Regions from separate parts of the Homo sapiens genome. Here region 2 is linked to region 1. Evidence: fine-mapped expression QTL. A gene starts in region 1. The other region holds a variant in brackets. All regions are shown on one strand. Distances are between the middles of the regions.

Region 1 (15,291 bases):
ACAGGTCTATCCCTTTCTCCAGAGATGATTTTGAGGGCTCCAAATTTAAAGGAGAAAGGGCGGGATAGTGAGAAGCACACAGTTTTCATGTAAACAAAGGGGGCAAAGGAAAAATGTGGAGAATCTGCATTTTACATAAGATAATACAGACGAAATGGGGTAGGGGAACAATCAGATATGCATTTGTATCTGGGGTGACTGCACCTGTAAAGATAAGTTATCAATTACATTGCCATGGTGAAGTTTTTATAGCTCACCAGGAATTTCCTTGTGGGCAAAACATGGGGGAAGCGTGTAGCTTTTCATCTTGTAGCCATCTTATTTAGGAACCAAAAGGGGGAGATAGGTATGCGTGACCCAGTTCCCAGCTTGACTTTTCCCTTTGGTTAAATGAGTTTGGGGTCCCAAAATTTAATTTCCTTTCATAGGCTTGTAACCAGAACATCTAAGGAACTCTTTCAAATAAAAATGGAAAAAATCCAGTAGAGAAAATGGGCAAGAAAGTTGAGCAAATATTTAAAAAGTTGGCATCTAACAACCAATAACAGGAAAATTTTAATTAAACTCAATGACATACTGCTACACACCCACCAGAATGGTTGACATTAAAAGGTCAGCTGAATAATGATGAGAAATGGGAATACTCACTCTGCTGATAGGCATGCAAATTGGTAAAATCACTTAGGAAACCAATCTGACACTATCAGCAAAGTTGAAAGTATATGTTTATTCCAGTGGCCTAGCAATTCCACTCCTAAGTACAACCCCAGAGTAAATTTATTACAGATACTCCCCCTGGCATGGATAACAGTGTCCCTAGCTGCAATGTTTGTAGAAGCTCCAAAAACCCCAAACTTAATAACGCAAATGTCCACTAGCAGCAAAATGTATAAGTTGTGGAATATTTACATGGCAGAATCCTGTGCATTATGAAATGGGATGAGCTGCAGTTACATGCAACACCATGTGAATCTTAGAGAGCTGATGGCCAGGCATGGTGGCTCACGCCTGTAATCCCAACACTTTGGGAGGCCAAGGCGGGTGGATCACGTGAGGTCAGGAGTTTGAGACCAGCCTGGCCAACAGGGTGAAACCCCGTCTCTACTAAAAATACAAGCCGGGCCTGGTGGCTCATGCCTGTATTCCCAGCTACTCAGGAGGCTGAAGCAGGAGAATCGCTTGAACTGGGGAGGCAGAGGTTGCAGTGAGCCAAGATCACGCCACTGCACTCTAGCCTGGGCAACAGAGCGAGACTCTGTCTCAAAAAAACAAAAAAAAAGTTTCAATATAAGCAAAGAATACATTTTGTGTTTCTATTATATAAAGTTCAAAACCAGGCAAAGGTACTGCTTGGGGATTCATAATTAGAAGTTAAGGTATAAAGAAAAGCAAGGAAGTAATTGCCCCACATTTGGGTCAGTAGTCACCCCTGGTTGGGTTTACCCCAGGGAAGGGAGGCAGCAGTGATGAAATGTGTAGGGCTGGACCCTGAGGGATGGCAATATCCTGTTTCTTGACCTGAGTGACAGTTCGCCTTATAAGTTGTATATTTGTTTTTATGTATTTTTCTGTATGTTGTATTTCACAACGAATTTTTTTTTTTTTAACATAAAAACACCTCCCCACAACTGCCTTTGCCTGCCCTAGGTCTTCCCCTTCCCCGCCCCTCCCTAGCACCACCACTGCACCAGAAGAGCGTTCATTCTGCTACCATTTTTCCTAGCCTAACTCCCGCTCATAACACAAACTTCTCCTCCTTCCCCAACCCTAGCGTCACCAGTAACCTCCTAGCTGGCAAGTCAAGTGAACCCGTGGCCTCACTCTATAGACTCCTCTGTCCTTTCGGAGTCTTTTCTGTTGACTTGTGGTTCTACTTTCCCTTGACTTCTCCAGATCGCCCCTCTCCTGGTTCTGCTGCTCTTTCTCTCCCTGTGGCCCTCTGCTTCATTCTCTGACATCTCTAACTTCCCCACTCCTTAAGCGCTACTGTTTCCCAGGCTTCCCTCACAGTGGTCTTATCCGCGCTCATATCTATGCTAACAGCTCCCAAATGTGTGTCCTCTTCTGAGCTCCAGGTGAACGTATGCTACAAGCTTCCTACTTCATCTACCCCTTCATGAAGATGCCTGGAGTCAACTTAATTTCAACCAACAGGCCTCAAAGAGAACTCACTCTCTTTTTTGCTCTAACTTTATTCCTAGATTTTCTACCTAAATAAAGCCTTGCCCGAGGCTGGGTGAGGTGGCTCACACCTGTAATCTCAGCACTTTGGGAAACCCAGGAAGAGATGGGAGGATCACTAGAGGCCAGCCTGGGCAACATAGCAAGACCCTGTCTCTACAAATATAAAAAATAAAAAAACTTAGCCAGTTGTGGTAGCACGTGCCTGTAGTCCCAGCTACTCAGGAGGCTGAGGTCAAAGGATTGCCTGGGCTCAGGAGTTTGAGGCTGCAATAAGCTATGATTGTGCCACTGCACTTCAGCGTGGGTGACAGAGTGAAGCCCTGTCTCTATTTAAAACAACAGCAATAAATAAACAAAGGGAATCACTTCCAAGTTGACATCCCAAGCTGGAAACATTGACTCCACACTTTCCTTAAGCTGCTCAGCATCAAAAGCTGCTATTGTTATGTTCATACTATGTGCCAGGCACTGTTTTCACAAGTATGTATATACGTGTGTGTGTGTGTGTGTGTGTGTGTGTGTGTATAAAATGTCCATTATACATATATAATATTAGCTTATTTAATTATTTCAACAATCCCAAGATAGGTACCATTATTATGCTCTTTTACAGAGGAGAAAACAGAAATCTTCAGAGCCAGAGCAGCATTTAGGCCCTCATCTTTACTCCTGAATTTCATTGTGGAGGGGTCACCTCATCAGTATTAGTACCTCCGTCCCAGTGTCTGCATCCACTGCCTTTAGCCTGGTTTGGATTATGACAGTAACTTCCCAACGGATGTCCCAGCCACACACAAATCCCTCTCCTTTTCCAAGCACTTTCAATGGGGCCACCAAAGTAATATTAAAAAAAAAAAAATCAGCCTGGTGCAGTTGGCTCACACCTGTAATCCCAGCACTTTGGAAGGCTGAAGCAGGCAGATCACTTGAGCTCAGGAGTTTGAGATCAGCCTGGGCAACATGGTGAAACCCGATTTCTACAAAAAAATACAAGAATTAGGTCGGGCACGGTGGCTCACGCCTGTAATCCCAGCACTTTGGGAGGCTGAGGCAGGCGGATCATTTGAGGTCAGGAGTTTGAGACCAGCCTGACCAACGTTGTGAAACCCTGTCTCTACTAAAAATACAAAAAAAGTAGCCAGGTGTGGTGGCATATGCCTGTAAACTCAGCTACTCAGGAGGCTGAGACAGGAGAATTGCTTGAACCCAGGAGGTGGAGGTTGCAGTGAGCCAAGATCATGCCACTGCACTCCAGTCTGGGCGACAGGGTGAGACTTCATCTCTAAAACACAAAACAAAACAAAGACTAGCCAAGTGTGGTGGCGCATGTCTGTAGTCCTAGCTACTCAGGAGGCTGAGGTGGGAGGATTGCTTGAGCCTGGGAGGTTGAGGCTGCAGTGAGCTGAGATCATACCATAGCACTCCAGCATGGGTGACAGAGTGAGACCCTGTCTCAAAAAAAAAATCACAATTTGACTGCGTAAATTCTGAGCGATTCCTTCTAAAATGCCTTAGCACACGCAGAGGCCACCTGACCTGATGCCAGCCTGCCCCCTTTCCCTATACCGTGTTCCCTTCCTCCATCCCAGGCTCATGTGCTCTTCTCCTTTAGGGTTCTGAGTCTGTACAGATAGTTCTCTCTGCTTGCAGTGCTCTGCCCACCCCACCTCCTACTGTGACCTGACCATCCTTAAAGCCCTAATCAAATTCTCCCTCCTTTGGTGATGCTGTCACAGACTCCTCAGTCAGCTCAGCTCCAGCTATATATTATTTACAATGCACTTGGTGCTGGCTGGGTGTTGTGGCTCATGACTGTAATCCCAGCACTTTGGAAGGCCAAAGCAGGAGGATTGCTTGAGGCCAGGGTTTCAGACCAGCCCTGGTAAGATAGCAAGACAAAATATAAAAAATAATAAATATAAGAATACAATGCACTTGGTGCAAACCTCCGCCATTTTCCTTAACATCAATTATATTGTAATTGCATGCTTATTTCTGCCTGTCCTTCTCCTTGAGGGCAAGAAGAGCATATTATTCTTTCTTGAGTTGGTATCCCTTCTTAGAGGCGGCCATATCTAGGGGGCAGTTGATGATTCTACTGAATAAATAGAAATAACCCAGTCACTGTTTTTAGGTGTGGGTGTTGTTGGTATGATACTCTGCTGGGTTTGAGATGCCCTGCTTAGAACCTTGAGGCCTGGGGATGCTAGCCTGTGTGTGTGCGCGCGCGTGTGTGTATGCGTATGTGGGTGTGAGTGTTTGCACACGTGTGTGTGTGTACTTTGTCCTTTCAGGCAGTTATTTTTCCTGAACTGATGGGAACATCTTGCACAAAATCAAGAGCCAGTTTGCTGACTGTTTTAAGGTTTAAAAAATATTTTAAAATAAAATAAGAAATCCTTAGATATTCCACATACACGCAATACTTTAAATGCCAATCCGAACTTCCTTCATAAATAGCAAACGTCTTATTTGCAACTACTGTTGAATGAAGTCATTTCCATCCTCAGCCATATGAGAAATAAGTTCCTTATTCATAGAAAACGTTTAGAGGTACAATAAAATGAGATTAGAAAAAAAAAACCCTAACATTCATTTCTATCGTTGGTTACAAAATCCACTCTCATGTATGAAGTGTGCTCTAGCTGTGAAATCCTTTCTTGGAGGTGAGATCATTTCTCTCTTATAACCCATATCACTGACTTTGTGCTCCTGTTTAACCTTTCCCACTGGAGTACTAGCTCCATGAAAACAGCAATTGGTGCTCCCTTCTTTGAGGAACAGTCCAGATGAGAGCCTGTCCAGGTAATCCATAGATATGCATAACCATTGCACCTGCACCAGGTCTTACAGGCACAGGCCTTTTGGGAACCCATATCAGCATTTCAAGCTGTGAAAGTAGTTCTACTTAGTAAAATTAGAACTTTGGTCTACCAAGGGCACTCTTAATATTTGAAGAAGAAAAATGAATTTCTAGCACAATTCACAGACTAGGACAAGGTGAATAAGTAAGCATCCTAACTTATTTGGAAGTCCTGGTGGCATGTTAATGCATATTTAATAATGCGAGTGAAGTAGCACATATTTTACAATCAATTAATTTTCCTTAAAGAAGATAATGTAGCAGGAGAGCTGAATGTCAAACAAGGTAAGACTCATACTTATTAACTTGGCAGGAGTTATGAGGCCTCTGATTCTCTTGAAAGACAAATTGTCTTCACTATTTTGATTTTGAAATGTAGAAATTCAAATTTCAATCAATCCAATGAGTAAGGATGACAGGAAATTTTACAGAACTAGGAGGAAGCTTCCTTTCATTTTTCCTTCTTTTTATTGGGGCAGGTGTAGGGGGATGTTTCCCCCACAAAACAGCAGTTTTGCTAGAAGACAGTGAGGGATCACCACCGTTGTGTGCCCTCCTCCCTGGGAGCAGCCAGTTGCTGTGACATGGACCTTCTCTATTGCAGATATATTTTCTTGCTGCCATACTTCCTCTGACTCTATCCAATTCCATCCTTTCCATTCTCTGGAATCAGAATGGGCCCATGCTTTATGCTTTTCCCCCTCACTTAGCCCTTAGAGAAGAGATCAGGATGTGCCACCCTCCAAATGCCCACATTTTGGCACAAGAATATTTTGAACTGAAGGCTATGAAAAAGAAAGCAGACACAGAAAGAGCTCTCTGCCCTCCCCCATCCCCCATCTTCCTAAAAGCAGCACATTTATTGATATTTCCCTTGCACAGGTGTCCCGCTTGCTCATACAAGGAAGAGAGCAACCCTTATCACCAAAGACAGAGATGCCGCTGAGATAAATCTGCATGAACAAACCTCGATAAATTAACCCTTATCTTCCATTATTTCCACCTCCCACCCCCACTTTATTGTCCCTAAAAGCATAACCCTCTTTTCCTTTGTCTAGTCATTTCACTATTTGCCGTGCTTTGTTTTAATGGTATATAAGCTCCTGAGTCTATTAGGTTTTTCCGTTTCTTTTATGTGAGGCTCTCATACATGTGAGATTTTATTTTATTATTATTATTTTTTTGAGACTGAGTCTCCCTCTGTCAACCAGGCTGGAGTACAGAGGCACGATCTTGGCTCACTGCAGCCTCTGCCTCCCAGATTCAAGTGATTCTCCTGCCTCGGCCTCCCGAGTAGCTGGGACTACAGGCATGTACCACCATGCCCGGCTGATTTTTGTATTTTTAGTAGAGATGGGGTTTCACTATGTTGGCCAGGCTGGTCTCAAATTCCTGACCTCAAATGATCAGCCCGCCTCAGCCTCCCAAAGTGCTAGGATTACAGGCATGAGGCACCACTGCCAGCCACATGTGAGATTTTAAATATGAATAAAATTTGCGTGCCTTTTCTCCTGCTAATCTGTTTTATGTTGGTTTAATTTGCAGGCCTCAGGCACTCAACCTAAGAGGGTAGATGAAGTTGTTTCCTCTCCTACACTTGTGACCTATAAGTGGTAACCCGATGCCTACTCATGGAGATGGGCATCACTGTGACCATGGGACAGATGATCAAACTTGGGCTCTGGGAAGTTACAGGAATTTGTGGGTGCTGGAGTCTGAACTCCTGTCAAAGCCCTTTTACCTCCCTCTTTCCTTTCTTGGCTAGCACCTCAAAGTTTTGTTTTGCCCATCTAGCAGACCGTAAAGTCCAAGGGATTGTTGACACTTGCCGGTGCAGGCTTCCCATCTTCTCCAGAGCGCCCATGCTGAGTGTCAGCTAAGGAAAGGAAGCACACCTAAAAACAGCCCTGGAAATCCCCATCCCAGACCCAGTCAAAATAGCCTGGTGTTTCTGACAGGTCTCCTTCTATGTCTCTGCGGGCACCCAGCCTCGGGCTGAGCAGCATTAATCACTCAGTGAGTTTTGGTTGATGAAGTGAGACTGATTTGCGTAATCCAGCTGCTCTGGGGCAGGTACCGGGGCCATCTGACAGGGGCTCCAGGACTTGGCTTGAGTAAAAGGAACCCTGAGACACTACCCCAGCCAGGATCTAAATTCCCCCATTTTTCCCTTCTCACCAGTTCTTTGGAAAAGTGCCTGAAGATAAATAATGGACCCCTGCTGTGAGCCAGAAGGGAAAAAAGGCAAGAGAAGAAGGCTGTCTTGTTTCTAAGTGACCATAGGGATCACAACACATCGATTAAAAGAGACTTTTCAGGTTTGTCAACCCAGAAGAGCCCAAGAAGAAAAAATAATGGGCTTAAAGTGTGCCGTTAAAAATCGTATTGTCCTGATAATCTCCCTGCTTAGGTAAGAAACTTGCCAAGGGGCTAAGGAAAGGGCAGCTTTTCCACTGAAGGCCTTTAACATAAGAGGAAAGCTCTGCTCACCTGGAAGCCCACGTTGCTGTAGCCCTCAGCTCTGGGGGCTGCTGTACTCCTCAGCTCCATGCTCTTTTTGCTGCTGGCTGGCTCTGGTCTGGAGGTCCTTTGTACCTGGGAAAAAGCACCAGTCTCTGCTGATGTCAGAAAGCCACCTGCTGTTACAGGGACCTGGGCACAGCTTGCTTCAGTTTGGAAACTTCTGCAATAATCTCCTGAATGACTAGGGCTGACACCTGGTTGGGGTGGGGCAGAGAGGCGGGCGGGTTGGCGGGGTGGAGGCATCTAGTGCTGGCCCGCCCACCTTATTAATCTTTTCCTTTATCCCCATTTTTGGCATCCTATTTGCACTCCTGGGGAGAAAACTCTTGTGGTGCACAAAACAGAAAAGGACACTTTCTTTTTCTTTCTTTCTTTCTTTTTTTTTTTGAGATGGAGTCTCAAAAAAAAAAAGGCTGGAGTGCAGTGACGCAATCTCGGTTCACTGCAACCTCTGCCTCCCAGGTTCAAGCAATTCTCCTGCCTCAGCCTCTCAAGTAGCTGGGATTACAGGTGCATGCCACCACACCTGGCTGACTTTATTTTTAGTAGAGACGGGGTTTCACCATGTTGGCCAGGCTGTTCTTGAACTCCTGACCTCAAGTGATCCACCTGCCTTGGCCTCCTAAATTGCTGGGATTACAGGCATGAGCCACCGTGCCCAGCCAGAAAAGGACACGTTCTCTATAGTGCTTAGTGAAATCCTCTGTTTTCCTGTGGGTGGTGTTAAAGACTAGGAGTGGTGGTGGGGTGGAGGGTGAGTGAACACAGGATATAAGGTCATGCCGCCCTCAGTGATCACCTACTGTATACCAGGGATGGATAGATGGATAGATACATAGACAGATAGGTAGGTAGGTAAGGGTCTTGGCTCTTCTTCCGAACAACTCAAAATTCTATACTGAAGTACAGAAAAGTTAACAATTTGTTTAGTGTCATTTAGCTAATAAAGGGATAATGAGAATTCAAATTCAAGTTTGGTTAATTCCAAAACCTTTTATTACATCCCTGCTTCAGACTGGGCTGCTTTCAAAAATCCAGCTTACAGAAATGCCGATATGTGACAAGTAAATGAAAGGTGACCAGCTATTCAATTATCAAAAGTGAATAGAAGTGCTTTGTTTTCATAAAGCAATTCACTTTGCTTTATGAAAATATTAGCTGTAGAATTCTTTTAAAATAGGGATTTTCCCCCCTAGTACAATTTAAAATACTGCAAAACTGTGGACAAAAGAATGGAAAAGGCCTGGTGCGGTGGCTCACGCCTGTAATCCCAGCACTTTGGGAGCCCAAGGCGGGTGGATCACTTTAGGCCAGGAGTTCAAGACCAGCCTGGCCAACATGGCGAAACTCCATCTCTACTAAAAATACAAAAATTAGCCAGGAGTGATAACGTGCGCCTGTAGTCCCAGCTACTCGGGAGGCTGAGGCGGGAGAATCGCTTGAACCCAGGAGACACAGATTGCAGTGAGCCGAAAACGCACCGCTGCCTCCCATCTGGATGACAGAGTGAGACCCTGTCTCAAAAAAAAAAAAAAAAAGAAAAGAAAAAGAAAAAGAAAAAGTAAGAAAATACCAAGTATTATGAGTGGTTATTTCTCGGTTTTTAATTTTATGGGCAGTTGGTGTTTTTTTTTTCTCCTTCAAATGCTGCTGAGTTTTCTATAAAGAGAATGATTTACTTTTATTATTGTTAACCTAAAGGAAAAAACGGAGACAAACTTAATGTAAGTATAGAGTTTATTTGGTCTAAGTTTGAGATTGCAACTTGGGAGCACATATTCAAGTTGCTCTGAATATACACTTAGTAGCAGTTACAAGTAGATTCTTGTGTGTGTGTGTGTGTGTTCTGTTGCCCAGGCTGGAGTGCATGATCATGGCTTGCTGCAACCTTGACCTCCTGGGCTGAAGCTATCCTCCTGTCTCAGCCTCCCGAGTAGCTGGGACTACAGACAGGTGCCATCACCCATGGCTAAATTTTTTTTTTTTTTTTGGTAGAACTGGGGGCCTCACTATGTTGCCCAGACTTGTCTTGAACTCCTGGGCTCAAGCAATCTTCCCACCTGCCTTGGTTTCCAAAAGTGCTGGGATTACAGGCACTGTGCCTGGCCACAAGTGAATTTTAAAGGAAAAGAAGGAGTTTCTGAGTTGTTTACCAATTATTTACATTAAAATAACATAAGCTATTGATTGGCTATACATTGCTATTTGTATCACACATTCTAGGAACAGAAAGGCAGCCAGTCAGGAACAAAATTCCTTTAAAACAATTGCCCCTGGCCAGGCACAGTGGCTCCCGCCTATAATCCCAGCACTTTGGGAGGCCGAGGCAGATGGATCATGAAGTCAGGAATTCGAGACCAGCCTGGCCAACATGGTGAAACCCTGTCTCTTCTAAATACTACAAAAATTAGCCAGGCATGGTGGCACATGCCTGTAGTCCCAGCTACTTGGGAGGCTGTGGCAGGAGAATTGCTTGAACCCAGGAGGTGGAGGTTGTGGTGAGTCGAGTGGAGGTTGTGGTGAGTCGAGATCACGCCACCGCACTCCAGACTGGGTGACAGAGCAAGACTCCATCTCAAAAAAAAAACAAAAGACAAAAAACAAAAGCAAAAAAAAATTGCCCCCGGGCACAGGGTTGAGTGGTGACTGAAGTCCAACCCTCCGTTTCTCTGGGCCTGATAGATTTTGCATTGCTCACATAGCTGGGACTGTGTGAGTTATTTTTGTTTTCTCTTTATCAGTGACTGAGGCCCAGTCTCTCTGGGCCTGATAGATTTTGCATATCTCACATAGCTCAGACTGTGGGAGTTATTTTTCTTTTCTTGTTATCATGATACAGACTGTACAGTGTATACATAATGATTAAAGGCTTGCAGGAACCTGTGGTCTGGGTTCAAATCCTGGACTCTACCTCATAACTACAGCCAACCACAGCTTGAGGGTCACACCTAACCTTCTGCTGCTTTTATATGGCCCAAGAGCTAAGAATGGGTTTTAGATTTTTAAATGGTTGAAAAAAATTAAAAGGAAGAATATTTCCTGACACATTAAAGTTATATGAAATTCAAACTTCAGTGTCTATAAATAAAGTTTTGTAAAAACAGAAACATGGCCATTGATTTATGTATTGTCTAAGGCTGCTATCATCCCATAAGGACAGAATTGAGTAGCTGTGACAAATACCACACGGCTCAAAGACAAAATATCCACTACCTGGCTGATGCCTATAATCCCAACACTTTGGGAAGCCAAGATGGGAGAATCGCTTGAGCCCAGAAGTTTGAGATCAGTCTGGGCAATGTAGGAAGACCCCGTCTCTACAAAAAATACAACAATTAGCCAGGTGTGGTGGTACGTGCCTGTAGTCCCAGCTACTTGGGAGGCTGAGGTGGGAAGACTTACTGGCCATGGGAATTTGGGCAAGTAGCTGAGTTCTCTGTATCTCAGATTCTTCCTTCATAAAACGGAGATAACAGTACCTGAGGACTAAGCTCTGATTTTTTTTTTATCTTGCCCAAATTATGATCTAAGGGGTCTGGGGAGTCATGCCCTACAAATCATAAATTCTCATCATATGGGTTTTTTTTTTTTTTTTTTTGGTCAGACAGAGTCTTGCTCTGTTGCCCAGGCTGGAGTGCAGTGGCAGATCTCAGCTTACTGCAACCTCCGACTTCCGGGTTCAAGTGATTCTCCTGCCTCAGTCTCCCGAGTAGCTGAGACTACAGGCGTGTGCCACCATGCCTGGCTAATTTTTACATTTTTAGTAGAAACAGAATTTCACCATGTTGGCCAGGCTGGTCTTGAACTCCTGATCTCAAGTGATCCACCTGCCTTGCCCTCCCAAAGTGCTGGGATTACAGGTGTGAGCCACCGCACCCGGCCCAGATGGGTTTTATTTAACCCTATATATCATGACTTACTTTCAAACCTGACTCGCATAACATTATGAGACAAGGAAGAAAATAAAAATATTTTACCCCAAAACATGTTTCTTTGACATATTTTGAAAAGGAAACATTGTCATCCTTTGTCTCTAAGGGCAGCCACTATAAAACTTCAGAAGAACTTTGGTTTCCACAATCTTTATCTTAGCCTGAATATTCCCTTTCTATGAATCCCAGGTCTTGAGACAAACTCAACCAATTGTCAACCAGAAAATGTTTAAATTCCCCTATAGCCTGGAAGCCCAACCCCCTCCTCCCCTTGCTTTGAGTTGTCCTGCCTTTCTGGACCAAACCAATGTATTTCTTAAATGTATTTGATTGATGTCCCATGCCTTTTTAAAATGTATAAAACCAAGCTGTGCCCTGACCACCTTGGGCAAATGTTCTTAGGGCCTCCCAAGGGTTGTGTCATGGGCCATGATCACTCATATTTGGCTCAGAATAAATGTCTTCAAATATTTAACAGAGTTCAACTCTTTTCATCGACATACCCATTTAGAAACAGTGCTGAGATGATAAAATGAGTTAATATACACAGGGAATAGTGCCTGACACATAATTCAACATCACCCAAATTTTATGATTTAGCTCTTTCGTGCTTCTTATTGATGAGACTTGGGGATTTTCATTAGTTCTTCCCCATCATTGCAATGTGCCATAAGTAGTAGTCATTGTGTTACCAAAGGCAAAAAAAAAAAAATCCAAGTGGAAGTGAGCAAGAGAAGTACAGATAAATAGACAGCAAATATTTGGGAAACTTTCCTTGAGAAATCGTTAGTTGGAAGAAACCAGTTGGTGCAACCTGATATTAAAACCTTCACCAACTCAAGACTCAATCTAGTTGAAGGTTATGGATGATCCTTACTTTCTGAAGCAAAAGACAGACATCTTCATTCTATCATTTAAAGCCTCTAATTGCAGAAACGTGACTCCAATGCCTGACATTCTTGCAGACACTGCTTTAGGAACTTTTAGAAATGTAACGATGTGTTTTCTTCTCCTTGGCTGCAGACAAAATTTGAAAAGAATGCAACAACATTTGGGGGAGCATATCATTGTGCAAGTCACAACACTAGACAGTGTTGATTAAAAGATACAGTGACCTCCCTCATCCATTCTCCAACTGTACCTGCCAGCAGGAAAAATTGACACCTAATTAGAGTAAATTGTATATACAACCATGATACTAAAATGCCAAAACAATGGTCATATCCAGAGAACTTGTAATTTAAAATTGTATGTTTCTGAAGCCTATCTTTAAGGAGCTTTCAGAACCAGTAAAAATTCTGACTCCTTGCAGCACCAGAATTAGTTTGATTTATGGGGCTATCACTTAAAGTGGTAACACCTTGGTAGAAGCTATGGCTCATTTTGTCCAATTAGGAAATAGAAATTGTGATCAGAAAATGAGATGAAAGGCCTTTTCAGTTTTACAAGACTACATTTTAAACAATTCCCCAGTCATGCAGAGTCATTATTTGTGAGAAATAGCTTGTGCCAAGAACTAAAAAACTGTCTCTTAACTCCTCAGAATTATTTTCATTGCGTTGTCACTCAAACTCAATTTTAAACTTTGAAACCATTGTGTAGCAACCAAATCACTAGACTTTTCAGTCAAATAATTCCTATACCCCGTTCTGTTCTCTAAAACTCAGCTTATAAAAATTTGCAAACTCATGGACTGTCTACGCACAAGCTCATTAAAGAAAACCAAAACACAAAAGTCCTCCATTTTTATTAAAATATGAAAGGAAAAATAAGTAATTACATGGCAATAGATTGTTTTTCCTGCCTTATGCATGCAGTTCTATAGTGAAGTCACTCTTGGTGACGGTATTTCCAAAAGGAGTAAAGAGAAAATTTGTAAAAATTGTGTAGAATGCTTGTCCTATGTTGAGCATGATGTGTTATATGTTCCAGACTCCTGTCTTCCTCCCTGAAGAACATTTCATGTAGTGCAGATTAACCTTTGTCTATACAACTTGAAGTAGTTAAATAAATAAATCAAATAATATTAATGTTAATAATAAAAATGTAATCCTGGGAGGTTTATAAGGCTTAGTCTAATTAACTGTCAATTGTTCAGATCATCCAAGAGGGGAAAAAGGAAAGCAATGAAAATGTGTATTTGACATAGGAAATGCTTCAGGATTTGTTTTTCAACAAAATTCTCCTTGCAGTTAGGTTTTTTCCCTGACATTTACACTATATACCAGGAAAGGCCAGCCAGAGCACTTAACACAGCCAAAGACTGGCCATAGAATCTGCCACATAGGTAATACCTGTCTGCAATTAAAGGATGATTTGGCTGTCTGTATCACTTTAGTGAGAATCTTGGGAAGGGCAGGGCACAGTGGTTCATGCCTGTAATCCCAGCATTTTGGGAGGTCAAGGTGGGTGGATTACTTGAGGTAAGGAGTTCAAGACCAGCCTGGCCAACATGGTAAAATGCTGTCCCTACTAAAAATACAAAAAACTAGCCGGACGTGGTAGTGGGCACCAGTAATCCCATTTACTCAGGAGGCTGAGGCAGGATAATAGCTTGAACCCAGGAGCACAGTTGCAGAATATCTTGAGCCCAGGAGGCAGAGGTTGCAGTGAGCTGAGATCACACCACTGCACTCTAGCCTGGGCAACAGAGCAAGACTCTGTCTAAAAAAAAAAAAAAAAAAAAAAAAAGGGAAGAAGGGAAGAGAACTAGTGACTGTTGAATGCTGCAACATACCTTTAAGATACTTATGTTGTTTCCATTTTATCCTCATAACAAGTCTTCACATGAGGTATTAATATCCCCATTTCACAGATGAAACACATGAAGCTCAGGGAGATAAAGTGGCTTTTCTAGCAACACAACTCATAAGTGGCAAAGCCATAATTTGAGCCCATGCCTGTGAAACCTAGTCTTGTCAAGAGCCCAGTTCTGGAAAGAAATGAAACCCAGGGGAAGCACAACTGAATTAATACCTCAACATGCTCACTCTATTAGTGAGGAAAACAAACCACAAGCAAAGTATATGCAAAAAAGGCTAATAAAATGGTGAAAGGCTAATAATATGGGGTTGTCAGGAAAACAGAGTTTAATCCATCTGTGCACTTTGAAATCCTCAAAAAGTGTGCCAGTGCTTAGGTGAGGGGATTCCTGAGAAGGCACAGGTGTCGGGCTGCTATATTGATTCCACCAGAAATGAATGCATAGAACTGAAAGCTATAGAAGGGCAGGAATTTTACCCATCTTAGTCTCTGCTCTTTCCTGGTGCTTAGCGTAGTGCTTGGAACAGCGTCAGCTCAAGGCTGAATAGAATGTTCATTGAACAAAGGTACACAAAGGAAGAAAACTGAAATTCCTACATTCCCATGTGTCCCAGGGAATATGTGTGAGTTCAAAAATGAGTTTCTAGGGCGCACAAGTTTGCACTGGTCAGCTCTCTCCAAGAGCCAACACTAGGACCAGGAGAAGGTAAGTAAAGAGCCCAGGGTGCAAAATTTAAGGGGGCACTCTCTGGACCAAGTGCAGGGTTGGCACTTGAAAATAAATTCCTCCTTAAAGTTTGCATTATAAGCACCTTGCCTAGCTCACCCTACTCCTGGCCTGGCCAAGAATAATCTATGGGCTTGTTTTAGATGAGTATAACATAACTGTTAAGAATGCAGGTTCAGGCCGGACATGGTGGCTCACACCTGTAGTCGCAGCTACTTGGGAAGCTGAAGCAGGAAAATCACTTGAACCTGGGAGGTGGGGGCTGCAGTGAGCCGAGATCACAGCACTGCACTCCAGCC
Region 2 (15,291 bases), 27 kb after region 1:
ACCAGTGATTTTAATAACTAGGCCACGGGTTGTGGCAACATGGAAAGGAAGACAGGGACAGATAGAGAGACAGAGCCACTGAAGATAACCTGGCTGTCACTTACTGAGATAACCAATCATACAGGTTGGCTGTTGGATGTCCATGGGGAGCCCTGGAGATGTTTGAGGTTCTCATGGGGTCGTTAAAGTGTTGAGAAGATAATTGGAATTAGAAGCCAAGCAGGAGATAAAAATGTGAGTTGGCAGGAAGTTAGATATGTAGAGTGAACAAGAGAAAAACGTCCAGGATTAATAAGAGCTCCAACATTTCATTACAAGGATTTAATGAGATAAGACATTTAAAATACTGACACAGGCTGGGTGCCGTGGCTTATAATTGTAATCCCAGCACTTTGGGAGGCTGAGGCAGGAGGATTGCTTGAACTCAGGAGTTTGAGACCAGTCTGGGCAACATAGTGAGACCTTGTGTCTACTAAAAATAAAAAATTAGCCAGGCATGGTGGTGCGCACCTGTAGTCTTGCTAATCAGGAGGCTGAGGTGGAAGGATCGCTTGAGCCTAGGAGGTCAGGGCTGCAGTGAGCTGTGATGGTGAGCTTTGGTGACAGAGCAAGACCTTGTCTCAAAATAAATAAATAATAATAATAATAAACCAACACAGTGCCTGGAATATAGTAGGTACTTCATAAATGCTAGTTTTCTTCCCCTCAAGAAACACTTGCTAAATGAGCTGATTGTCAACAATTAATCCCAAACCAGAACGATTTTTAGGGTTAAACATGCAGGCCGGGTGCGGTGGCTCAGGCCTGTAATCCCAGCACTTTGGGAGGCCGAGGTGGGCAGATCACAAGGTCAGGAGATAGAGACCATCCTGGCCAACATGGTGAAACCCCGTCTCTACTAAAATACAAAAAAATTAGCCGGGTGTGGTTGTGGGCGCTTGTAATCCCAGTTACTCGGGAGGCTGAGGCAGGACAATTGCTTGAACCTGGGAGGCAAAGGTTGCAGTGAGCCGAGATCGCGCCATTGCACTCCGGCCTGGTGACAGAGCGAGACTCCGTCTCAAAAAAAGGTTAAACATGCAAATAGGGTTACAGGCTATTTCAGAATATGAGCCATCACATGCTTATTGAGTTACACGAAGAAGTCAGGAAACAGGATTTCCAACTTAAAATGTCTTTCCTGTTTTCAGAAAAAGAAATGCTGTTCTCTGTACCTACCGTTGAAGCCATAGATGATCTCTGTGCTCCCTCGTGCCTCCTCTCTGATTTGTCAGGTGAAAGGCTCTCGGGATGACAGATTCAGGCCCAGCTCTCCCGCGAGAGTGTTTTGTCCCCTGTGAGGATGCGTACTGCCTGGGCGTGATAAACCTATCTTAGAGGATCTGCCTATCCCACCCTGATCTGTACGCCCCTAGGGTAGATTCCCCCCAAAAGAGGCAATATGAACTTCTGAGTTTTCAGCTGTGGAAAAAAAAAAAATAATAAGCTGGGCACAATGGCTGACATCTGTAGTCTCAGCTACTCAGAAAGCTGAGGCGGAAGGTTCGTTTGAGCCAGGAATTTGAGGTTACAGTGAGCAATTGCGCCATGGCACTGTAGCCTGGGCGACAGAGCAAGAGTCTGTCTCTAAAAATAAATAAATAAATAAATAAATAAAAATTAATTTTTAGTAACAGCTAAGGGAAAGGGTTTGGAGGTTTGCTGAGGAAATGCATCTTAGTGTTCCAGTACTTCGTGTCCCTTATTTTAATTAAAAGAACCAAATTGACTTTTCCCAGGACAACCCGACTTATTAGTGTTTTTTGTGTTACTAAAACTTGTTGACTAGAGAATTTCAGATGCTGTTCTGAAGGTGAGTGAAAGTGGAATGCAGTAACTTGGATCTAGAGTTCGAACTTTAACAATTGGGAGGCTGATAATGAGGCAGAGACTGGGAAAGGGGCAAGTCTGGGGGAGAGCCCCAGGGCTTCATCTGTTAATATTGAGATGCTACTGGACACACAAGTGGAGATGCCAAGGAGGCTGGAGCTATAATAAAGTCAGAGCTAAAGATAGAAATTTAGGACTTGGCCAGGCGTTGTGGCTCACACCTGTAATCCCAGCACTTTGGGAAGCTGAGGTGGGCAGATTGCCTGAGGTAAGGGGTTGAAGATCAGCCTGGCCAACATGGTGAAACCCTGTCTCTACTAAAAATACAAAAATTAGCCAGGTGTGGTGGTGCATGCCTGTAGTCCCAGCTACTTGGGAGGCTGAGGCAAGAGAATTGCTTGAACCTGGGAGGCGGAGATTGCAGTGAGCCGAGATCGGGCCACTGCCCTTATAGCCTGGGTGACAGAGTGAGACTCTGTTTAAAAAAAAAAAATTAAAATAAATAAGTTAATAAATAAATAAATAAATAAATAAATTTAGGACTGATTGTCATTTAAATCAAAGGTGATGAACTTTTTAAATGCCATGGACCGCTTTGGCAGTCTGGTGAAGCCTACAGCCCTCTTCTCAGAATGATGCTTTTAAGTGCATAAAATAAAATACATAAGATTGCAAAGGAAAACTGCATTAAAATATAAGTAGGTATTAAAAAATTGTGATAAAGTAATATAATAACTCTTGTATTAATACATTAAATAACAGATTTATAAATCTAATAACTAACATATTTGCAAGTAGTAAAAAAGATAAAAATATTTTTGGATGTCTGGAATAACTGTAATGTAATATGAACATGTTCGTGAATGGTGACAGAGCTCCAGATATGACAGTACCATTGCTTTATTTACGAATGAAAGAAATATTAACTTTCAGATAGAGATTAGTGAAGATAGAATATTTTTTCCCATTCAAGTTCATAAACCCTTAAATGATATTTAAAGCTATGGAACATGATGAAATCTACTAGTATGTAAATAAAGAAGAACAAGGGTCCCTAGGACTAATCTGGGATGTTCTTATATTAGGAGATTGAACGAAGGTACAGGAGCTTAAAAGAGACTGAGAAGGCACAGGCAGTGATGTAGGAGAGGAACCAAGAGGGGAGAAATCAATAAGTCAAGGCAGGAAAATGTCTATGGGAAGGAATCAAGGATCTGTATTCTTCATAACCTTCAAGTATTTATTATGTACACTGATGACTAAGATTCCTCTTTACTGGACTATTCCCATTGTTCATTCAGCTACTATTTTTCAACCAAAACGGTACAGCAAGCAAGGTGCTCTAGGGCTGGGAATACAGAAATAATGATCACTTCCTCTGTGCCAGGCACTCAATATTCACGAATTGAATCCTGTCACATCCATATTATTATTAGTTTCACTAGTAGATGGGATTAGGGCATTTATCAGAATCATCTAAGTGTTTTGCTAACAGAGAAAAAGATAAAAGATGGCTGTGCCCCACCCCAGACATTCTGAGTCAGAATGGGAAGTTGGGATACCCATGTCCCACTGTGTTTCCAATAAATTGCACATGTGATTAACATTTGTTTATTTTTGTAGAGATGGGGGTCTCACTATGTTGCCCAGGCTGGTCTTGAACCCTTGGGCTCAAATGATCCTCCTGCTTTGGTTTCTCAAAGCGATGGGATTACAGGCTTAAGCCACCAAGACTGGCCTGATTTCCATACTGACCAAAGTTTGTCTTTGATTTTTAAAATTATCTTTTTTCATAGATTTAAAAAAATTTATCTTTAATTTTTGTGGGTGCATAGTAGGTGTATATATTTATGGGGTACATGAGATGTTTTGATACAGGCATGCAATATGTAATAATCACATCATGGAAAATAGGCTATTCATCCCCTCAAGCATTTATCCTTTGTGTTACAAAAAATCCAGTTACACTCTTTTTTTTTTTTTTTTTTTTTTGAGATGGCGTCTTGCTCTGTTACCAAAGCTGGAGTGCAATGGCACGATCTCGGCTCACTTCAACCTCTGCTTGCCAGGTTCAAGCAATTCTCCTGCCTCAGCCTCCCGAGTGGCTTATAGGCATGCACCCTTGATGCCCGGCTAATTTTTGTATTTTTTCAGTAGAGATGGGGTTTCGCCGTGTTGGCAGGTGATCCACTCACCTCAGCCTCCCAAATGCTGGGATTACAGGCATGAGTCACCACGCCTGACCTTTGTTTTGTAAAGACAAGGTCTTGCTATGTTGCCCAGCCTGGTCTTGAACTCTTGGCCTCAAGTGATCCTCCTGCCTTCACCTCCCAAAGTGTTGGGATTACAGGTGTGAGGCACTGTGCCTGGCCAATTACGCTTTTTTAAGTTATTTTGAAAGGTACAGTTAAGTAATTATTAACTATAGTCAATCTGTTGTGTGATCAAATAGTAGGTCTTTTTAATTCTTTTTGTTTTTTTTGTACCCATTAACCATCCCTACCTCCCCTGCAGACCCCCACTACCCTCCCCAGCCTCTGGTCACCATGCTCTACTCTCCATGCCCATGAATTCCATTGTTTCAATTTTTAGATTCCACAAATAAGTGATAACATGCGATGTTTGTCTTTCTGTGCCTAGCTTATTTCACTTAACATAATGATCTCCAGTTTCATCTATGCTGTTGCAAATGACTGAATCTCATTGTTTTTTAAGGCTGAATAGTATTCCATTGTGTATATGAACCACATTTTCTTTATCCATTCATCTGTTGATGGACACTTAGGTTGCTTCCAAATCTTAGCTATTGTGAACAGTGCTGCAACAAACATGTGAGTGCCGGTATCTCTTCAATATACTGACTTCCTTTCTTTTGGGTATATACCCAGCAGTGGGATTGCTGGATCATATAGTTGCTCTATTTTTAGATTTTTGAGGAACCTCCAAACTATTCTCCAGAGTGTCTGTACTAATTTACATTCCTACCAACAGTGTACAAGAGTTCCCTTTTCTCTTCATTCTCACCAGCATTTGTTATTGCCTGTCTTTGGATATATCCCATTATAACTGGGGTGAGATGCTATCTCACTGTAATCTTGGTTTGCATTTCTCTGATGATCAGTGATGTTGAGCACCTTTTCATATGCCTGTTTGCCATTTAAATGTCTTCTTTTGAGAAATGTCTATTCAAATCTTTTTGCCTAGTTTTAAATTGGATTATTAGATTTTTTTTCCTATAGAGTTGTTTGAGCTCCTTATATATGCTGATTATAATCCTTTGTCAAATGAGTAGTTTGCAAAACTTCACTTTGTTGCTATTTTTCCTTTGCTGTGCAGAAGTTTTTTTTAAGTTGATATAACCCCATTTGTTCACTTTTGCTTTGGTTGCCTGTGCTTGTGGGGTATTTCTCAAGAAATTTTCGCCCATAACAATGTCCTGGAGATTTTTCCCAAACTTTTCTTGTAGTAGTTTCATAGATTTAAGTCTAATCCATTTTGATTTATTTTTGTATATGGGGAGAGATAGGGTTCTAGTTTCATTCTTCTGCATATGGATATCCAGTTTTTTATTCTTTTACTGTCTCTGTATATTTTCAGACAAGATTGGGTGTGCTCGAAGACTGGGCGTGGTGGCTTACACCTGTAATCCCAGTACTATGGGAGGCTGAGGTGGGAGGATCACCTGAGGTTGGGAGTTCGAGACCAGCCTGACCAACATGGAGAAACCCTGTCTCTACTAAAAATACAAAATTAGCCAGGCGTGGTGGCACATGCCTGTAATCCCAGCTACTTGGGAGGCTGAGGTGAGAGAATTGCTTGAACCCAGGAGGCAGAGGTTGTGGTGAGCCAAGATCGTGCCATTGCACTCCAGCCTGGGCAACACGAGTGAAACTCCATCTCAAAACAAAAAAACAAAAAAAAGATTGGGTGCATTCGGGGTGGTATGGCTGTAAACTGACTGTATTTTCAAACAGCCTGGCTTCAAGCTCACTAATTCTTTCTTCTGCTTGATCAATTCTGCTATTAAGATTCTGATGCATTCTTCAATATGCCAGTTGCATTTTTCAGCTCCAGAATTTCTGCTTATTTTAAACTATTTCAATCTCTGTGTTAAATTTGTCTGATAGAGTTCTGACCCTTCTGTGTTATCTTGAATCTCTTTTAGTTTCCTCAACACAGCTATTTTGATTTTTCTGTCTGAAAGGCCAAATATCTCTGTTTCTCCAGGATTGGTCCATGTTGGCTTATTTAGTTCATTTGGTGAAGTCTTGTTTTCCTGGATGGTGTTGATGCTAGTAGATGTTCTTTGGTGTCTGGGCATTGAAGAGTTAAGTGTTTATTGTAGTCTTCACTGTCTGGGCTTGTTAGTACCTGTCCTTCTTGGGAAGGGTTTCCAGATATTTGAAAGGTCTAGAGTGTTGTAATCTAAGCTATATCTGCTTTGGGGGACACCCCAAGCTCAGCAACACTGTGGTTCTTGCAGACTTGTAGAGGTACTTCCTTGATGGTCTTGGACAAGATCTAGGAGAATTCTTTGAATTACCAAGCAGAGACTCTTGTTCTCTTCCCTTACTTTCTCCCAAACAAACAGAATCTCTCTCTCTGTTCTGAGCCACCTAAAGCTGGGGGTGGAGCGACACAAGCACCTCTGTGGCCACCACCACTGTGACTGTGCTGGGTCAGCCCTGAAGCCAGCACAGCCCTGAGTCTCACCCAAGACCTTCTGTAACCACTTCCTGGCTACTGCCTATGTTCTGTCAAGGCCCTGGGGCTCTACAGTCAACAGGTGACAAGGCTAGTCAGGCCTGTGTCCTTCCCTTCAGGTCAGCAAGCTCCCCCAGGCCTTTGGTGGGTCCAGAGGTGCTGTCTGGGCCTCAGGGAGTAGAATGAAAACCTTAGAAGTCTACCTGCACTGTGGCTGAGCTGGCACTCAAACCATAAGACACAGTGCTTCCCACTCTTCCCTCCCTTTTCCAAAGGCAGAGGAGCCTCACTTCATAGCCACCACCACCGCAGGCCACGGGGAGTACTCCACAGGAAGTACTGCCATACTACCGCCAATATTCTCTTAAGGCCCAAAGTCTCTTAAGTCAGCTGGTGGTGAATGCTGCCTGGCCTGGGACTCACCCTTCAGGGCAATGGGCTCCCCTCTGGCCCAGGGCAGGTCCAGAGATATCCACAAGCCAGGTCCTGAAATATGTGACCCCAAAAGCCTGCCTGGTGCTTTGCCCATTTGTGGCTGTGCTGGTATCTGAAGCTAGCAAGTTTCAGAGGCTCACCCTAGGCCCTTGATTGAAGGGGTCCTGCCCCTCCACACCTGTGGGTGTTTCTCGTCAGGTGGAGACGAGAGACTGAGAAAAGAAATAAGACACAGAGACAAAGCATAGAGAAAGAACAGTGGGCCCAGGGGACCCGCACACTCAGCATGCGAGGACCTGCACCGGCGCTGGTCTCTGAGTTCCCTCAGTATTTATTGATTTCTATTTTTTACTATCTCGGCAAGGGGAGTGTGGCAGGAGAACAGAGTGATGATGGGGAGAAGGTCAGCAGGAAAACATATGAGCAAGTAATCTGCATCATAAATAAGTTCAAGGGAAGGTACTGTGCCCGGATGTGCACGTAGGCTAGATTTATGTTTCTCTTTACCCAAACATCTCAGTGTAGCAAAGAGTAACAGAGCAGTATCACTGCCAGCATATCTCGCCTCCAGCCATAGGGCGGTTTTCTCCATCTCAGAGTAGAATGAATGGTCGGCTTCACACGGAGACATTCCATTCTCAGGGACATGCGGGAAACAGAGGCCTTCCTCTTATCTCAACCGCAAAGAGGCCTTCCTCTCTTACTAATCCGCCTCAGCACAGACCCTTTATGGGTGTCGGGTTGGGGGATGGTAAGGTCTTTCTCTTCCCATGAGGCCATATCTCAGGCTGTCTCAGTGGGGGGAAACCTTGGACAATACCCAGGCTTTCTTGGGCAGAGGTCCCTGTGGCTTTCCACAGTGCATCGTGTCCCTGGTTAATAAAGGACGGAGAATGGAGATGACTTTTACCAAGCATACTGCCTGCAAACATATTGTTAACAAAGCACATCCTGCACAGCCCTAAATCCCTTAAACCTTGATTCAATACAGCACATGTTTCTATGAGCACAGGGTTGGGGCTAAAGTTACAGGTTAACAGCATCTCAAAGCAGAACAATTTTTCTTAATATGATCAAAATGGAGTTTCTTATGTCTTTCTTTTACTACATAGACACAGTAACAGTCTGATCTCTCTTCTTTTCCCCCACACTGATACAGTACCTGGGTATCGCTGCTGGTTGTTCAGGTCCCAAGCGCTCTTCATTTAGCAGATGCTGAATGCTGGCCGGACTGGGTCCTTTCCTTCAAGGTGGCAGGTTCACTTCTGACTCAGGGTGTGTCTAGAAATGTCATCTGGGAGCTG[G/T]GGCCTGGAATGGGGGCCTCACAACTCTGCCCAGTGCCCTATCCTGCTGTGGCTGAGTTGGCATCCAAGATGCAAGACAAAGTCCTCCCCACTCTTCCTTCTCTCCTCAAGAGGAAGGAAGGAGTGTCTTATGCAGCGGAGGGCTGTGCAGCCTGGAGTTAGAGGAGGGGCACCCCAGCTGGTGTCTCAGTATGTCACATGCCACACCCCTGCCCCCCCACCAAGTCCACTGTCTCTGGGCCCAGTTCAGCCCTAGGACATGAAGTCATGTCAGAAGAACTGCAGGCTGGTCAGGGTGGAGGAACTGGGGAGAGGGGGTAGAAGATGAAGTCATGCCAGGCGTGGTGGCTCACATGTGTTATCCTAGCATTTTGAGAGGCCGAGGCAGGTGGATCACTTGAGGTCAGGAGTTTGAGACCAGCCTGGCCAACATGATGAAACCCTGTCTCTACTAAAAATACAAAAATTAGCCGGGCATGGTGCTGGGCACCTATAATCCCAGCTACTCAAGAGGCTGAGGAAGGAGAATTGCTTGAACCCGGAGCGGGGCGGAGGTTGCAGAGAGCAAAGATCATGCCACTGCACTCCAGCCTGGGCGACAGAGCAAAACTCTGTCTCAAAAAAAAAAAAAAAGAAGATGCAGTCAGATGAAGATGGACTCTGTAGGGCATGGCATGATCACATTTACTTTTTTTTTTTTTTTTTTTTTGCCTAAGATTTGCAGCCCTTACGGCCTAGACTGTCTTTAAGGTTTTTTAGAGTCCCAGAGCACTGTAGCCCTCAGTGGTGAGGTTTGTGGGAACTCAAGTTCAGACAGCTGGAATAGGCGATTCCCCTCTGGCTAGGGCTGGTTTGAATGCTCCCCCAATAGGTGGGTGTTAGCTGAGTTTGGTTTAGTTTTCCTTTCTGCTCTAACAGAACAGCACTGAGTTCAATGCCTTACAACTGCTGTTTACTCCCTCCCTCAGTGCCCAGAGACGCGCTCCGCACCATGCTACTGCTGGGGTCAAGCGTGGAATGGAGGGGTGGGGGTACTTTGAGGGCTCATGTGATTTTTTGGTTCTTTTTTTTTTAACTTTTAAGTTCAGGGGTAATGTGCAGGTTTGTTATATAGGTAAACTTGTGTCACAGCGGTTTGTTGTACAGATTATTTCATCACCCAAGTATTAAACCTATTATCCATTTGTTATTTTTCCTGATCCTCTCCTTCCTCCAGCCCTCCACCCTCCAGTAAGCCCCGGTGTCTGTTGTTCCCCTCTTTATGTCCATATGTTCTCATCATTTAGTCCCCACTTATAAGTGAGAACATGTAGTATTTGGTTTTCTGTTCCTGCATTAGTTTGCTAAGGATAATGGCCTCCAGCTCCATCCATGTTCCTGCAAAGGATATGATGTCATTCTTTTTTATGGATGCATAGTATGCTATGGTGTATAGATATTGTATTTTTTTAATCCAATCTACTATTCATGAGCATTGAGGTTGAGTCCATGTCTTTGCTGTTGTTAACAGTGCTGCAATGAACATATGTGTGCATGTGTCTTTATAATAGAAGGATTATATTTCTTTGGGTATATACCCAGAAATGGGATTGCTGCATCAAATGGTAGTTCTCTTTTTAGATCTTTGAGGAATTGCCACGCTGTTTTCCACAATGGCTGAACTAATTTACACACCCACCAACAGTGTATAAGCATTCCTTTTTCTCTACAACTTCACCAACCCCTGTTACTTTTTGTGTTTTTAATAATAGCCACTCTGACTGGTGTGAGATGGTATCCATCGTGGTTTTGATTTGCATTTCTCTAATGGTCAGTGATGTTGAGCTTTTTTTCACATGCATGTTGGCCACATATATGTTTCTTTTGAAAAGTGTCTGTTCATGTCCTTTGCCCACTGTTTAATGGGGTTGTTTGTCTTCTTGTAAAATTTAAGTGCCTTATAGATGCTGGATAATAGACCTTTGTCAGATGCATAGTTTGCGAAATGTTTCTCCCATTCTGTGGGTTGTCTTTTTACTCTGTTGATGGTTTATTTTGCTGTGGAGAAGCTCTTTAGTTTAATTAGATCTCGTTTGTCAATTTTTGCTTTTGTTGCAATTGCTTTGGGCATTTTCATCATGTAATTTTTGCCTGTTCCTATGTCCATAATGGTATTGTCTAGGTTGTCTTCCAGGGTTTTTATAGTTCTTAGTTTCACATTTAAGCCTTTAATTCATCTTGAGTTAATTTTTGTATGTAGTGTAAGGAAGAGGTCCAGTTTCAATAGTCCGCACATGGCTAGCCAGTTATTCTAGCACCATTTACTGAATAGGGAGTCCTTTCCCCAGTGCTTGTTTTTGTTGACTTTGTCGAAAATTAGATGGTTGTAGATGTGTTGTCTCATTTCTGGGCTCTATATTCTGTTCCATTGGTCTATCTGTCTGTTTTTGTACAAGTACCATGCTATTTGGTTACTGTAGCCCTGATGTATAGTTTGTAGTAGTATAGTTTGAAGTTGGGTAGCGTGATGCCTCCAGCTTTATTCTTTTTGCTTAGAATTGCCTTGGTTATTTGAGGTCTTTTTTTGGTACCCTTTGATTTTTTTTTTTTTTTCCAAAATGGAGTTTTACTCTTGTCACCCAGGCTGGGGCACAACGGCGTGATCTTGGCTCACTGCAACCTCTGCCTCCTGGGTTCAAGCGATTCTCCTGCCTCAGCCTCCCGAGTAGCTGGGATTACAGGAGTGGGCCACCACTCCCAGCTAATTTTTGTATTTTTAGTAGAGACGGGGTTTCACTATGTTGGCCAGGCTGGTCTTGAACTCCTGACCTCAGATTATCACCTGTCTTGGCCTCCGAAAGTGCTGGGATTACAGTTGTGACCCACAGCACCCAGCCCATATGAATTTTAAAATAGTTTTTTCTAGTTCTGTAAAGAATATCACTGGTCGTTTGATAGGAATAGCACTAAATCTATAAATTCAATGAGCAGTATGGCCATTGTAACAATATTGATTCTTCCTATGAATAAGCATGGAATGTTTTCCCATTTAAGGAGTTTTTTTTTTGGGGAGGGGATAATTGGTGGAGCCTTTTATTCTGCCAACTTGCTCTGCTTCCCTCATAGATTTTTTAAAAATTAAAATTTAAAAAAGAAACTAAAAAAATACTTTTAAGAGAGAAAAGAAACAGCAAATATAACAAATGGGTTCACTGTATTATGCTAAAAGTGGTAAGTGCTGTGGAAAAAAAGGAAAAAGTTGGGTAGAGGAAGGGATTTTGAAATGCCAGGGGGCAGGAGGGCTCATATTTCTCAGTATTCATAGGGTGAACTCACTGAGGTTGTGCAAGAAGATATCTGTGGTCAAAGTACTGGCAAGAACTGTTAAAAACGCCCTAACGTGGGAGCATGAAGTTGTGTCAGAAGTACTGCAGCCTGGTCAGGGTGGAGGAGCTGGGGAGAGGGAGTAGAAGATGAAGTCAGATGAAGATGGACTCTGTAGGGCATGGCATGATCAAATTTACTTTTTTTTTTTTGTTTTGAGACAGAGTCCCACTCTGCTGCCGGGACTGGAGTGCAGTGGCTGTGATCTCGGCTCACTGCAACCTCCGCCTCCTGGGTTCAGGAAATTCTCCTGCCTCAGCCTTCCAAGTAGCTGGGATTACAGTCACGCTCTATCACGCCTGGCTAATTTTCGTAGTTTTGGTAGAGACGGAGTTTTGCCATATTGGCCAGGCCGTTCTCAAATCCCTGACCTCAAGTGATCCACCCGCCTTGGCCTCCCAAAGTGCTGGGATTACAGGTATGAGCCACTGCTCCCGGCCTCCAAATTTACATTTTAAAATCAGCACTCAGCTGCTGTACTGAGAGTAAACTAACTGAACCCATGTCTTCTTGGCCTATGTGCTTCTAGGGCCACCTTCTGCTTTGGATTAGCTTAAGCAAAACTAATGAGCTCTAAATACAAGCCCTGTCTGGCCTGGTTTTAGGCGATGTCAGATCTTTAGTTTCCCCTAGTAGCCCTAATTTATCTTTATTTTTGCTCATGACACTCTCAGCTTTCAACTTAGCATTGCTGGTGGGTTATAGTTAGGGTTTGTCGTTTTCATAAAACTCTTCGTTCTATTTAGTTACAGTACATCTGTTTCTTATGAAAGATTAATTTTATGCATCTTTAAATCTTTGAAAACATAGCCTTGCCTCATGCTGGTTCTCGTCCACCCCTGTAGGCCTGATAAATGTTGGAGAAAACTTTGACAGCATAATTAAGGCATAATTTTATTCTATTTTTTTAACCTCTGTCACTCAAAAAAAAAGTGCAAAATAGAATTTATATGGCTGGAAGAACAAGGTGGCAGTGATTTATTTATGCCAGACCAGAGGAGGATATTGATATTTATTAAAATAAAATACTAAGATGGTAAATGGTCTACTAATCAGAACCTGGTTAACATCATGTGCCTGAGCAGGTGGGGTAGAGACAGGCAGAGCCCTGGAGATTGCTCTTATTTCAAATACAAGGGATACAGGGTCAGAGGGAAAGGATTTCGTTAGAAAAAGAGAATGCTCGCATTTACTCAGAGCGGACTGTTTGCTGAGCTCTCTGGCTGGACCTAGGAGCTAATGCCTTGTCTATGGAATCGTGGCTGAATTCCTACCCACAGCCTTCTTGGTCCTCTCTGGCCTTCTACTGCCTTTACAGATTGATCGTGGGGTGCAGTGGACCCTTTAGCACTTTGGAATTCTCTTAACCCACCCTGTACTGTCTCCAAATGGTTGCCTTAACTCAAGTCTACAGTGTTGTAAAATCTTTTGTCCTCAAAGGCACAAGACGTTCTGAATTGGCCCCTTCAGTGTATTTCCAGGGTACTTTGTAATGACAGGAATGGTTCATCATTGAGTGGTAAGGTCCTGTAGCATATTCCTTATATGCATGTTTCATTCATTCCTCTCATTAATGATATGAGACAAGTCCCTTCCCTTCCCTTCCCTTCCCTTCCCTTCCCTTCCCTTCCCTTCTCTTCTCTTCCCTTCCCTTCCTTTCCCTTCCTTCCTGTCTCCTCTCTCCTCTCTCTCTCTCTTTCTCTCTATTTTTTTGTTGAGACGGAGTTTCACCATGTTGCCCAGGCTAGTCTCTAACTTGGGCTCACGTGGTCCACCTGCCTAGGTCTTCCAAAGCGATGGGATTACAGGCGTGAGCCACGGCACTTGGCCTATTCCATTTTCTAGATAACAAAAGTGAAGCCCAGGCTGGGTGTGGTGGCTCACGCCTGTAATCCCAGCACTTTGGGAGGCTGAGGCAGGTGGATCACTTGAGGTCAGGAGTTTGAGACCAGCCTGGCCAACTTGGTGAAACCCTGTCTGTACTAAAAATACAAAAATTAGCCAGGTGTGGTGGTGGGTGTCTGTAATCCTAGCTACTTGGGAGGCTGAGGCAAGAGAATTGCTTGAACCCAGGAGGCAGAGGTTGCAGTAAGCCGAGATTGTACTACTGCACTCCAGTCTGGGCAACAGAGTGAGACTCCAGCTCAAAAGAAAAAAAAAAGAAAAAAAAAAAAAAAAAGGAAGCCTGGAAACATTAGGTCACGTGCCCAAGTTTACACAGAATGACTATGAGCCAAGTTCCTAGCCCCTGTGTGAATGGTTACATTATGCCTTGTACTATTGCAATTTATTAATATTTACACGTCTGTTCCTTCTATTGGGTTAAAAACTCTTTGAAAAATTGGACAATGTCACGTTTGTCTTTGTGTTCTCCTTAGTTCCCCACACAGCTCCTTACACATCATAAGGGGGCAATAACACTGTGATGAGTGAATGAATTGCACTCAGATGCCTAACACTAGCACTTTGAATTTTCAAGCTTGTTCACATCTCCCATCTCCCAACAAAGAAGGATATTTTAATAAGAGTTGTGGGAGAAATTAACAGAAAGCAAACATTGCCAAGAAAAATCCTTTTTGAGATTGGTTCTGACAGTCACACAGCAAGGGAAGAAGAAAATGGTTCTGAAGGGGAGGAACCTCAGGAAGGGGTTCTCTAACATCTGATTCAAAGCAGAGTTCTTTGTTTGTGAAGTCTTGTTCTCATGCGGTTGAGATCTAAATCTCTATTTATAGATTAAAATGCTGCTAATGCTGGCAAGTTGCAGCAAATTGGTTGCCTGGAGATGATAATACTTTGTTAATCCAGTATCAAGCTGTGCTGGGCATTATTGAAACCCAGTCTAGGAAGGACTTTCTGATCATCGAGAATTAGAAGAAGGCTGGTGCAATTCCAAGTGGCATTTGCATCATGCATTTAGGAACAGTTGAAAGTAACCAACTTAAGGTGCTTGGGGTACCATTCCTTAAGGTGACCTCCTAAACTTGTCAGAAAGTTATCTCTGCTTTCCTTTATAGATTTGATGACCATATATGTACCCTTAGAAAATACATTTTTTGTTTTGCTTATTTTTGAACTTTATAAAAAATAGTATCATACTATGTGTATTCTGAAACTTGTTAATTCACTTTTTTCCTCAACATTATTTCCTGAGATTCAGTTCATCCATGTTGAAGCTTGTAGCTATGGTTCACTTATTTTTATTTTTTTATTTTTTTCTGAGATGGAGCTTTGCACTTCAGGCTGGAGTGCAGTGGTGCGATCTCGGCTCACTGCAACCTCCGTCTCCTGGGTTCAAGCAATTCTTCTGCCTCAGCCTCCAGAATAGCTGGGATTACAGTCACCATGCCCAGCTAATTTTTGTATTTTTAGTACAGATAGGGTTTCACCATGTTGGCCAGGCTGGTTTCGAATTCCTGACCTCAGGCGATCCTCCCGCCTCGGCCTCCCAAAGTGCTGGGATTACAGGTGTGAGCCACTGTGCCCTGCCGGTTTATTTATTTTTATTGCTGTATAGTATTCCATTGTATCAATGCTACCATTTACTTATCCAAACTTCCACTGATGAACATTTGAATTGTTCCAGTTCTTTTTATCATGAACAATGCTAAGAACA

What was found. PIP is the estimated chance that this variant, and not a neighbour inherited with it, causes the effect.
Region 2: its variant is fine-mapped to the expression of SLC28A3 in subcutaneous fat (GTEx, PIP above 0.99). The same link has a PIP of 0.9 or more in whole blood.

Annotation. Positions count from the first base shown.
Region 1 is chr9:84,333,037-84,348,327 of GRCh38, forward strand. SLC28A3 (solute carrier family 28 member 3) reads right to left here and starts at 7,722. Exons shown (of 18, transcript NM_001199633.2): 1 at 7,538-7,722. The coding sequence starts at 7,597.
Region 2 is chr9:84,360,282-84,375,572 of GRCh38, forward strand. It overlaps a transcript of SLC28A3 not described here. Among named protein-coding and RNA genes, the nearest start is that of SLC28A3, 27 kb to the left of the region's middle. The variant G/T (reference allele first, on the strand shown) is at 8,313.